2 separate regions of the Homo sapiens genome follow, and region 2 is linked to region 1. The links come from fine-mapping of genetic effects on gene expression. A gene starts in region 1. The other region holds a variant in brackets. All regions are shown on one strand. Distances are from middle to middle. Region 1 holds the start of SLC29A3 (solute carrier family 29 member 3). Region 2 has its middle 25 kb from the start of CDH23.

The links. PIP is the estimated chance that this variant, and not a neighbour inherited with it, causes the effect. A credible set is the group of variants that fine-mapping cannot tell apart.
Region 2: its variant is the best candidate, but not a certain one, in a credible set for the expression of SLC29A3 in prefrontal cortex (GTEx, PIP 0.54).

The regions. Positions count from the first base shown.
Region 1 is chr10:71,316,229-71,321,601 of GRCh38, forward strand. SLC29A3 (solute carrier family 29 member 3) reads left to right here and starts at 3,031. Exons shown (of 6, transcript NM_018344.6): 1 at 3,031-3,082. The coding sequence starts at 3,082. LOC124902445 (a long non-coding RNA gene) reads right to left here and starts at 3,435. Exons shown (of 2, transcript XR_007062183.1): 1 at 3,334-3,435; 2 at 1,741-2,676. RefSeq lists a silencer at 2,828-3,277.
Region 2 is chr10:71,369,679-71,375,051 of GRCh38, forward strand. It overlaps a transcript of SLC29A3 not described here. Among named protein-coding and RNA genes, the nearest start is that of CDH23, 25 kb to the right of the region's middle. RefSeq lists an enhancer at 3,656-3,705. The variant C/A (reference allele first, on the strand shown) is at 2,237.

The sequences.
Region 1 (5,373 bases):
GCAAGACCAACCTTCCCCTTGTTGACTAAGCTTTTCCTGCCCACATCCCCACAGCTGGGCCTTCTTTCTTTGTTTCAGTTGAAGATGGCATTTAAGCCTGAACTCAAAGCCGTGGTTTTTGGAGATTTACTTATTTCTCTGAGTATTTCCCAAGTGCACATGACATATACACATTACTAAACTTCTGTTTGTTTTTCTCTTCTCAATCTCAAGATTGTTTCAGGTGTCTACCCTACCTCATGAAGGCTAGAAAAAATTACCTTTCCGCTCCTATAGCACTTATCAAAAGCAATGTTCAGGATAACTTCAGGCAAGGGACAGGAACCCAGCCAATTTCTGAGGCCTGCCCACCCCAGCCTCCCCATCCCTCCCCTCCCTGGAGTCCGCTGCTATGAAGTAGGTATTGTGAAAACACTTTTATTCTGTTTCCTCTCTACTTCCCTTTCTTGACCCAATCTCCCTCTTTTCTGATCATCTGTCAGGGTAAATGTTTTTATTACCTGGTCACTGAAGGGCCTGCTGGTCAGGGGCCAGGGCAGACTCAGAGCTCAGGGCTCTGGACCCCCATTCTCCTGTTCCTTCCCTGATCCCCCAAAGCCTCAAACATTCCCTGGGAAGCTGTGTGCCCAACAGTACCTGACTCATCTTGTCCCCAAGCTAGACATTACCACCGCCATCCGCCTAGATCCTGGAGGAGAAGACAAGCCCACATTGTCCGGGAAGCAGCCCCACGGATGCATTAGCAACCTGTTTCCTCCCACGGCTTTCTGCTTTCATGATGGAGGCCATCCCCAGAGCCCCTTCCTGAACTCAGCCCTAGCAACCAGCAAATCCCCAAGTGGCTGGCGCCTCCTCCATTTGGAGAAAGACCTCAGCCTCAGAGCTCTGGAAGAGGGCTCCTGGCACCTCTGATTCTCTAAGCAGGTGTCCTGAAACTGTCTCACTCACTCACATACATGCACATTCTCCAAAGATAAAGATAACAATGACTACAAACAACTCAGGACTCTGCATGAAGTAAAAGCAATCAAGTGACAAAGCACCGGAGCTTCACAGACATGGGTCATGGTCTTGGGGCTGGACCAGAAATAGCCCTGATCTGCTGCCCTCACTGAATCCTACGGCTTTGTCCCTCGTGCTGTCCCAGCTCCCCTCAGCCTCACCTGCCTGCCTGTAACCGGGCATGACAAAAAGAGCCTTGGCTCTGGGTTCTGCCACTCCATCACTGCCAGCTGTGTGCCCTGGGAAGCCACTTGACCTCTTTGAGCCTGGCTTTCCTCATCTGTAAAATGGGGACAACAGTCCCATTTCACTGGGTACTGGGGTGGGGGGGTGGAATCAAATGGGAGACTGTTCATGAAAATGCTCTGTATATTAGAGGATTTTTTTCCAACGTAAAGAGGCTAAAAATAAGGCCTGATGACTAAACTAACATATACACTATCACATTTTGGGGGTGGGGAGTGTCTTCCTTGGAAGTGATGGAAATTTGCATTGAGTGCCTGGCATGGATCACCTGACTTAATTCTCCCGACAGTCCTAAGCCGACCCTGGGTTTCAGAGAGGTTTAGTAATTTTACCATTATCCCTCAGCTTGTAAGCCTGGAGCTAAGCCCCTTCCTCTCCTGGGCCGGGGGGCTTTCTGACAATTTAGGGTGCTAGTCTCCAAACTCGCCTGCTGGTGGAGCTTGTTAAATAGATCCATTCTGGATCCCCATTCTGCACCCCCTGAGTGATGGGTTGTATTAATCCAGGTATTTATTGAACACAAATTATGTGCCCACGATGAGGGAAGAGCAAACAAAGCAGATACAGCACCACCCTCAGGGATTGGGGAGTGGCAGCAACCCTCCTGGGGAGAGGTCCCCAGAATCTGGATGTGTACTCGAGACTTTTATGATCAGGCCAGTGTTTGGGGAATGGTGGTTATAAAATGAGAGGCTGGGGCAGGGAGTGGGGATGTTCTGAGAACCTGTCCACACACTGACAGCCTCAATGGGTTCTGTGGCACCCCTGAGCCCTGGGATGGCAACTGCAAGAATTTACTATCCATGGTCACAGATCTTCAGGCCCTGTGAAGCATCCAGATCCCCGCTCTGAATAGGCCAACTGGGCCAGGACCGGGAGTCAGGAAGGTTTCCGCCTTTTTTTTTTTTTTTTTTTTTTTGAGATGGAGTCTTGCTCTGTCGCCCAGGCTCCAGGCTGGAGTGCAGTGGCACCATCTCGGTTCACTGAAATCTCCGCCTCCCGGGTTCAAGCGATTCTCCTGCCTCAGCCTCCCACATAGCTGGGATCACTGGCACGCACCACCATGCCCGGCTACTTTTGTATTTTCAGTAGAGACGAGGTTTCGCCATGTTGGCCAGGCTGGTCTCAAACTCCCGACCTCAGGTGATCCGCCTGCTTCGGCCTCCCAAAGTGCTGGGATTACAGGCGTGAGCCACCGCGCCCGGCCCCTGCTTTCTTAAAGAACACGCGGCAGCTGTGTGTTACACGCTATGGCTGAGGTCAAGTGTGAGGGCTGGAATTGCTGACTGCCATGTTCTGGGTCTACTGAAAATAGCTGCCTGGCCTGGGAGGCCCAGTTCAGTCCGGGTGTGGGTCCCGCTTCACCTCCAGAGCAGCGGCAGCCGGTAAGGGTAGAAGCGGCCTTTGGAGAGGGGTCTCTGCAGCGGCCTGGGGACAAGATGAGGGCTCCTTTGAGTCCTGGGGTGCAGGTTATAGTAGCTAAAGGGGAGGTCTGAGACAGTGGGGTCTGGCTCCAAGGTAAAGAAGGAGCAGCAACCAAAAGGCCTGATGCGCAGCGCACCCATCGCAAGCATGGGCAGTGCGTTTAAGACTGGGTGACTCACTTTTTCTCCTATAAAATGGGCGCACGCAGGCCCCAGCTCAGCGCCAGAAGGGGGAGCCCCGGCGCGCCGGCAGAAGACAAAGGAAAAAAGCGTGTTTGCAAACGGGGAAGCGGCGGCGTGCTGCCGCGAGGGGCGGGGCGGGGCCGGGGGAGGAGCCCGCCTGCCGCCTGCCAAGCCCAGTGGTCCTGGCCGTGCGCCGGAGGCAGCGGCGGCGTGGCGCAGCGGCGACAGTAAGTGCGGGCCGGCTCGGGCTCTTCCGGCTACGGTCCCGGCCGCCCCCAGACTCGCGCTCAGCGACCTCCCTCCCGGGCCCTGGGGGCGGCTGCGGGCTGCCAGGGGAGCCGCAGGACCCTACCCCATCCGTGGTCCCTTCCCCACCGTCCCTCCTCTCTCTCCTTGCTCTCTGCCACCCCTCTTTCTGGGTCTCTATCTTCTCTTCCCCAAATCCTCTCCCCTCCTCCTCCCTGAGACTGGACCTCACCGCCTGTATGGTGGGGGCCTGGTATGGACCCGTCGGCCCGAAGTATCCAGACGGTGGCTGATTCTCTCGGTCCCAGCTGCGGGGCCTGAGGCTGGGGCTGTTTACACCGCAAAGCCGGTTCTGCCGCGGCCAGTAGGCGGTGCCCTGCGCTTCCCAGTGCCTTCCCACAGGTTAGCCCTACCAGCTCCCCACCCCGGTTCACAGCCCAGGAGATCGAGGCACAGAGGGGCGAGCCACCTAGCCAGAGTCAGGAACCTCCTTGGAACCAGCACCCAGGCTTCCCAGCCCAGATGAGGTTTTGCCGCGGCCCCAGCAGTGCCTGCCTCCTTGTGTGGGGCTGTCTGTCTGTGCATGGCCGGGCTCCCGCAGGTGACCCAGGAGCACGTTCCAGGCCACAGCCAGCTTGTTTTGGGGAAGGTTGGGCACTTCCTTGCCTGCCTTTCTCTTTATTTTTTAATCCAGAAGCCAGCAGCTAGCTTTTATAAAGACTAATAAGACTTTGCTCACTCCAGTGCCCTGGCCTGTGACCCTGGTTAGAGAAAATTCCTGGCTCCTTCTTCAGAAGCTCAGTCAAGCCTTGACAAATAGACGCTAGGAACTGAGAAGGGGGCCCTAGCCAGGTGTGGTCCTGAGTGACAGGGCTGGTGGACCTTCTAGCCGCCCCCACAGGTAGCTGGAGCCTCTGGAAAGAACCACTTGCCGGTTCTCTCTTGTTCTATGTGGGTGGGTCATGATTATTTTTTACATTTTAAACACTAATTTTTAAAATGTAACAAGTGAGCTTGTTACATTTGTACCATTTTGTGCCAGACAAAATAGCATAGACTGGGTGGCTTAAACAAAATTTGTTTCTCATGGATCTGGAGGCTGGGAAGGGCAAGATCAAGGTGCTGGTTGATTTGGTTTCTGATGAGGGCTCTCTTCCTGGCTTGCAGACAGCCTCCTTCTTGCTGTGCCTTCACATGGCTTTTCCTCTATGAGTGGGTGCATGTGGAAAAAGCGATTTTCCACACAGTGAGCTTCCAGACAGTGAGCTTGTTAATGCTGGCCTCCATGCGAATCCAGGCTGGGGAGGGGCTCTGCTAACCAGGGGAGTTTAAAATAGACTTGCTGGCTGGATGCATTGCACTTGGGCATCCAGTGGCCCCCCACCTGCTGGCTCCAGGGTACATGCTACCCCAGCAGGGGAGAATGTCCTGGTCGTGCAGAGTCCGTTCATTCAGCAAACATTGACAAGGGTGCCTGCAGTGTGCCTGGGCCCCTCCCGACTCACTGGCTTCAAGGCTTGCAGGAAGGATGCCTGTACTTGGAACCAGCAGACACAGATTCCCATTCCCAGCCAGTCCTCCCCGGTGTGCTGAGGAGTCCAGCATGGGCCCCAGTCTGCTTGGCTGTGTAACTTCACTCTTGTCATCTACTAGTTATGTGACCCTGGGCAAGTTACTCAACCTTTCTGAGCCTCAGACCCCTCTGTGAAATGGGTCTTAGAGTAGTACCTAATATATTAGGCTGTTGTCAGCCTCAAGTGTGACCTCTGTTAGGCACAGACCTTGGCATTTGTGATCACTGGACTTAAGTTTAGCTATTGGGAGTTCTTTCTATTTGTGGGACATAGCAAGTGCCTTCCAGACCTCAGTTTTTCCATCTGAAAAAAGGGGGCAATGTTTTCTGCCCTGCCTAATTCCAAGGGATGCTCTGAGGTTCTCCTGAAATAGTGGATAAGGTTCTGCACCCATGTGAGGAGGTGTTCCCATCCCACCAGGGAATAAAGGCCCCAGTCTTCTTGGTACGATGCTTTGAGTTAGGCTTAGCCTCCTATAGAAACCAAGATGCATTTATTTATTAGTTTATTGGGTGGGGAAGAGGCTACTGCAGAAGGGACTCTGAAGTGTCCCATCCTCAGCATTTTGGAGACATTTCTCATTTATCAAGCTGCTGCCACATCCTAGGTGCTATGTAGAGCAAAGAAGCAGGCATGCTACCTTACAGCCAAATTCAGCAGCCAGCCAGCCAGCCATGCGACAGGCCCAGGATGCCAGG
Region 2 (5,373 bases), 53 kb after region 1:
TGTGGTCTACATCAAAGTAAAGGGAGGCACTGACCATTGAGCAGCTACTATGGTCAGGCTCTGCCTATGTACAGTATCCCTGCCAGGTGGGGTGGGTCATCCCCATTTTACAGATGAGGAAACTGAGACTCAGAAAGATTAAGTCAGTAAGAGACCATGTTAGAATTCAGACCAGAGCTAGGAGGCTCCAAAGCCTGTCTTTCCTCTTCACCCTGCTGCCTTAAAAGATTGAGAAGGGCACTTCCAGTTTACATGGTTTGTGGATCTGAGGACGCCCAGAGCACATGCTGGGTAGACAGGGTAAGGAGGGGGAGAAGCAGAGTCAGGATGAACTTGTCCGGTGTGAGGGACAGGGGCCACCCAGCCTGCCCTCAGTGCTTCTATGGTGGCACTGATGGGTCACTGGTCATCAATACCCAAGGCTGCAGATGTTATAGGCACTTGAAACATAAGGTTCATGAAGGCAAGAGCAAGATTTACAGAGCATGTGATACAGGCAGAGAGCTTCACCATCTGGATCTCAGGTGCCACATGCCTCAAGCCTGTCCTCTCCAACGTGCCAAGGAACCGTGGGTGGGTCCACCTTCGCAGACACAGAGAAGAGTAAAGTATGAAGTTCTAGGATAACCATGCCTTCTGTTCCCAACTTAAAACATATGCCTAGAGCTGGTGGGGCCCTGAGGCCACCAAGTCCAACCTCTGCCCCTCAGCAAGACCATACTTGGGCTACTGTAAACCAGCTGGCACCAGGCCTGTGCTGACCAGCAGTTTCTAACAGATTTAAGTTCCGGAGGCCCAAGGAGATTGAACGTCCTCAGTGCTGTCCTTCTTATTTGTTTATTTATTTATTATATATATTTTAAGAGATGGAGTCTTGCTATGTTGCTGAGGTTGGAGTGCAGTGGCTGTTCGGAAGTGCAATCATAGCTCACTGCAACCTCCAACTCCTAGGCTCAAGTGATCCTCCCACCTCAGCCTCCCAAGTAGCTGGGACTACAGGCATGTGACACTGTGCCCAGCTTTTTAAAAAAATGAAATATAACTATATTTTCCAAAACAAAATATTGGTGAGAAAAGTGCCATTGTTTTGCAGTTTTTAATGTAATTTTTTATTGATACATAATAGAGGTATATATTTTCAGGGTACATATGATAATTTAATACACTGATATCATTTGTAAAGATCAAATCAGGGCAATTGGGATAGCCATCACCTTAAATATTTGTCTTTTCTTTATACTAGAAACATCTAAATTATTTTATTATTTATTTTTTAATTTTTAATAGAGACAGGGTCTCTTTATGTTGCCCAGGCTGGTCTCGAACTCCTGAGCTCAAACGATCTACTCACCTCAGCCTCCCAAAGTGCTGGGATTACAGGTGTGAGTCATCGCGCTTGGCCCGAATGATTCTCTTCTAGCTATTTTGAAATGTATGATAGATTATTGTAAAGTGTAGTGAATACTGATCCATCAAGCACTAGGTCTTACTGATTGCTGTTCCGATTCTGGAAAAAGCCCCCACGTTCCTAGCCCACTTCCTATGCACTCACTCCAGGGTGAAGGATGTGAGGTCCTCTTCCCAGCACTTTCACCCAACGGCCTCCATCACTACTGCACTAGCCCGCCCCACTCCTTGGAGTTTAACCAGGGCAGAATGTTCTCATGGCTCTAGACTTCTGATGTCCTTGCTACTTCCTTCTAAGAGTCTTATGTGGGTCTTAATCTGGGGCCTCTGGGTGGAAAGAGGGATTCATGGAACCCCTGAGATCATATGCAGAAGTTTCTGTGCTTTGGGAGAGGGGCTATAGCTTACATCAGATAGTCAAAGAGGTCTGCATTCCAAGGTTTCCGAGCCCCTGGGTGCCAAGCTACAGTGACCCGTCCTGTTTAATGGTGTTCCTGGACAGAGCAATGGACAGAGCACAGTGCTTAAGAGCAGGGACTTAGAAGCCAGACTGCCTGATTTTGAACCCCGACTCTATGTCTTATTAGTCAGTGATCTTGGACAGGTTTCTTAACCTCTCTGTGTCTCTGTTTCCTTATCTGTAAAAGGGATTGACAGTGTGTCTATCCTCATGGGATTGTTGTGAAGATTAAATGATTTAATCCATATAAAGCTCTCCATCCAGGCTAAATGATTACTTCTCCTCCCATCGCCCTTGGAGGTTGGCAGGGCAGAGGTTATCCTGACCACTTTTTCAATGAGGAAGAACGACAGAAATAATAGCCCAGTT[C/A]CAGAGCTCTGCCTGCAAGTGCAGCAGGTCCTGCTGTTTCATGAAATCATTGCAAAGAGGAAGTCTGCACACTGCTCTCAGAGGCAGGAGGATTCCTTTTAGAGAGCTGGGGAATAAACCAGATCTATCGACAGTTTCAGTCCTGGTTAAGTAGTGAGAACCAGTCATCGGTCACAGGATGCAAGAGGTGGCTTTAGGCGTGAGTCAGGAGCCACACACCTGAACTGGCCTGTTAGCATCTTCACGGTGAACTTCTTGAAGTCCCTCTGTCTAATCAGATTTCCAGAGAAATAGAGGAACTACTGCTTATTGAGCACTATGAACCGGGCAAGTGAATGCATAATCTTACTTAATCCATTCAGTCACTAGGTGGAAGGATTATTATCCCCATTTTATATGTGCCAAAACTAAGACTCACATAGCTGCTAAGTGGCAGAACTGAGATTCAAACCCAGGTCTGCCTGACTCCAAGACTCAAGTGCCTGATGGTCACAATAGCAGCAGTCCTCATTAGAATCACCTGGAGCACTTGGTAAATGCAGATTGCTGTATCCACTCCCAGAGTCCCTGATTCCATAGGTCTGGTGTGGGACCTGAGAATTTGTAGTTCCAACAAGTTCCCAGGTGGTGCTGATGCTGCTGGTCTGAGAACCCCACGAGGAGAACCACTGTGCTAAACCAAAGAGTGATGAGGGGTTGTCATCAGCTCACACCTGGCCCGGGGAGAGAAAGTGAGGGCTTCATCTGCTGCTGTTCCAGTTGAGGCCTCAGGAACCGGAAAGTCTTTAATGAAGCTAATGCATTGTGGACACTCACTCAACCTTCCTTGAAAATGATCACAGATTCAGGGCAGGGCCTTTGCATTTTAAGTGCCAAGCTCATCTTCTTCACCACGCCCCAAGGTTGGCGCCTGGTGGCTTTACTCCTCACTTGTGTCTTTCCCACCTGCTCCCTTCAGCTGAGGCCCAACACCATCAATATTGAGGAGGGAGGAGGGACAGGGGCGGGGGCGAGACAGTGAGGCTGAGGGGCAAGTCTCAAGGCATGCGTGCGATGACAGGCTGGAAGGCGCTGTGATCTCACCCCCTCGCAGGCATTCCTGTAACTGGGGAGCAGTGGGTGAGGGGTGCGGGGCTGCCTCCTACCAGGGTGTAGTCACACCTCCTATCTGTCCTCTGGAATTCATTAGCTGCTGAGGTGATGTTAACTGTTTTTCATTTTCTGAGTCTTTGCTGAGACTCAAAAAGGGGAAATGAGCCATTACCAACCAGCAACACTTTTTCAAACAGAAACTGAATTGACTGCATTTTCTAATAATGTTGTGTGAATTACGAATGCAGAACTCTGGCCTTGTCTTTCAGAAGACAGATGTCTGTGGCTTGCTTTCTGCTTATAAAGCTCTGGGAGAAAGGAATAGGACAGGTCAAATGTCAAAGTGTGCTGGCCCTGGCCTGTTGTGAGGATGTCGGGAAATTTCCCTTTCCTTGCTTTCTGCTGCTCAAGAACCTCAGGCTCTGCCCTGTTGGGTAAGGAACAGCCACCTCGATTCTTGAAATAGGGGAGTCAGGACACAGGGCTTGGAATCAGAGAACTCTGAACCTCAGTATCCTCATCCGTAAAATGGAGATATTAATCCTGCATGCCTCGACATTCTGATCCTGTCAGAGTGCCTTGTGAACTGCAAAAAGCGTATCAGATATTAGCTCTTATTATTATCCTGCCCTTAGATCCATTTGCACCCCATCCTATGGGACAAGGAGTCTGTAGGACCAAAGGGACATGATAACCAGGAGCTCACAGCCCTCTTCCCTTCTGCCATGCTCTGGGTACGTGGGACACTTGAATCCCTTGCCTAAATGGGCTTGAACCTATAAGGAAGGGCTGGGAAGGCCTTTTCCCAGACCCATGGCCCCAAGGGCAGACTGCTAAGGGCACACCTGGGTGCAAGGAATGGCTGTTTGCAAGGGGTGCAGAGTTGGGACTTATAGGTTGGGATATCTACATTCGTTCACAGGAGACCCTTCTAGATGTGGGACTGAGCAGAATTCTGAGAAGTCAGAGAATTCTAGATTCCAACCTGACCTTCCAGGTTGTTATAAAGGTATATATGTGTCAAGGTAGAAGGGAGAAGATATTTTAAGTTTAGTCATTGATGTGTAACTTACATATGAAAACACCTGGTATAGGGCCTCCATTTGTATTATTGTCCTGGGCCCATTTTCATTACTAGAAGTTTGAATTCACTTCCTTTGAGCCAGGCAGACCTCTTGCTTTCCTCATTATTTGTACCTCTCTTCCTATTTCCCTCTCCTCTGTCTTCCTAAATATGCATAGCTGAGCCTTATTAGGATATATAGCCAGGATTGGTAGAGATTTAGGGGGCTCCCTTTCCTCTCTCCCTTTAACCATTTCCCACCCCCTCAGGACATGCGTGACAGATGATAGGCAGGGGCCAAGGGTCCTCTCTGGTCAATGGCTGGCCACCTTTTTACCTCTTAAGAGGTTTCAAGATAATGATATCTGTGTAACTTCATGGTAAGAAGATAGAGCTCCATTCTGCTCCCGCCATGGTAACCCGAAGGTAAGCCAAGAGGCTCCATGTTGGGGTGTGTGTGTGTGTGTTGTGGGAAGCAGGCCTGAGAAGCCTAGATTTTTGGGCAGAGAACTACAAGAAGAGTAATGTTGCCTGCCCCTGTCCCCATCTCCATCCTGGAAGGGTGCAGGTCCTCAGCTGGCAGCGGGAGAAAGGCAGCTGGTGAAAGGCAGCAGCCAGCGACTTCACCACTTTGAGTTGGGCCCCTTCTGGTGTAGAACCTGGATCCCCTAACCTCCTTGGCTTGCCGCTAGCGTGTCATTATCCACGTTTTGCTCCATGTAAAACCCTCTTCCAACATCCCCTTCCTATTCAGACACTGTTTGACAGTGCAGAGACTGGTCCAGAAATGGGGTCGCTTGCCTCTGTGAGTCAAGCCTCTCCTGCTCCAGAAAGTAAGATGAGAATAGCTGCTCCCCGCTTGCTTCTTGGGGTCCTGGGAGGATGCAGCAGTAGTAGAACAGCTTTTGGTACATATCAAATCCTGCTGAACAGCTCATCTCACCTATGCCTGAGATGGCGATAATGCAGAGGAGGAATAGCG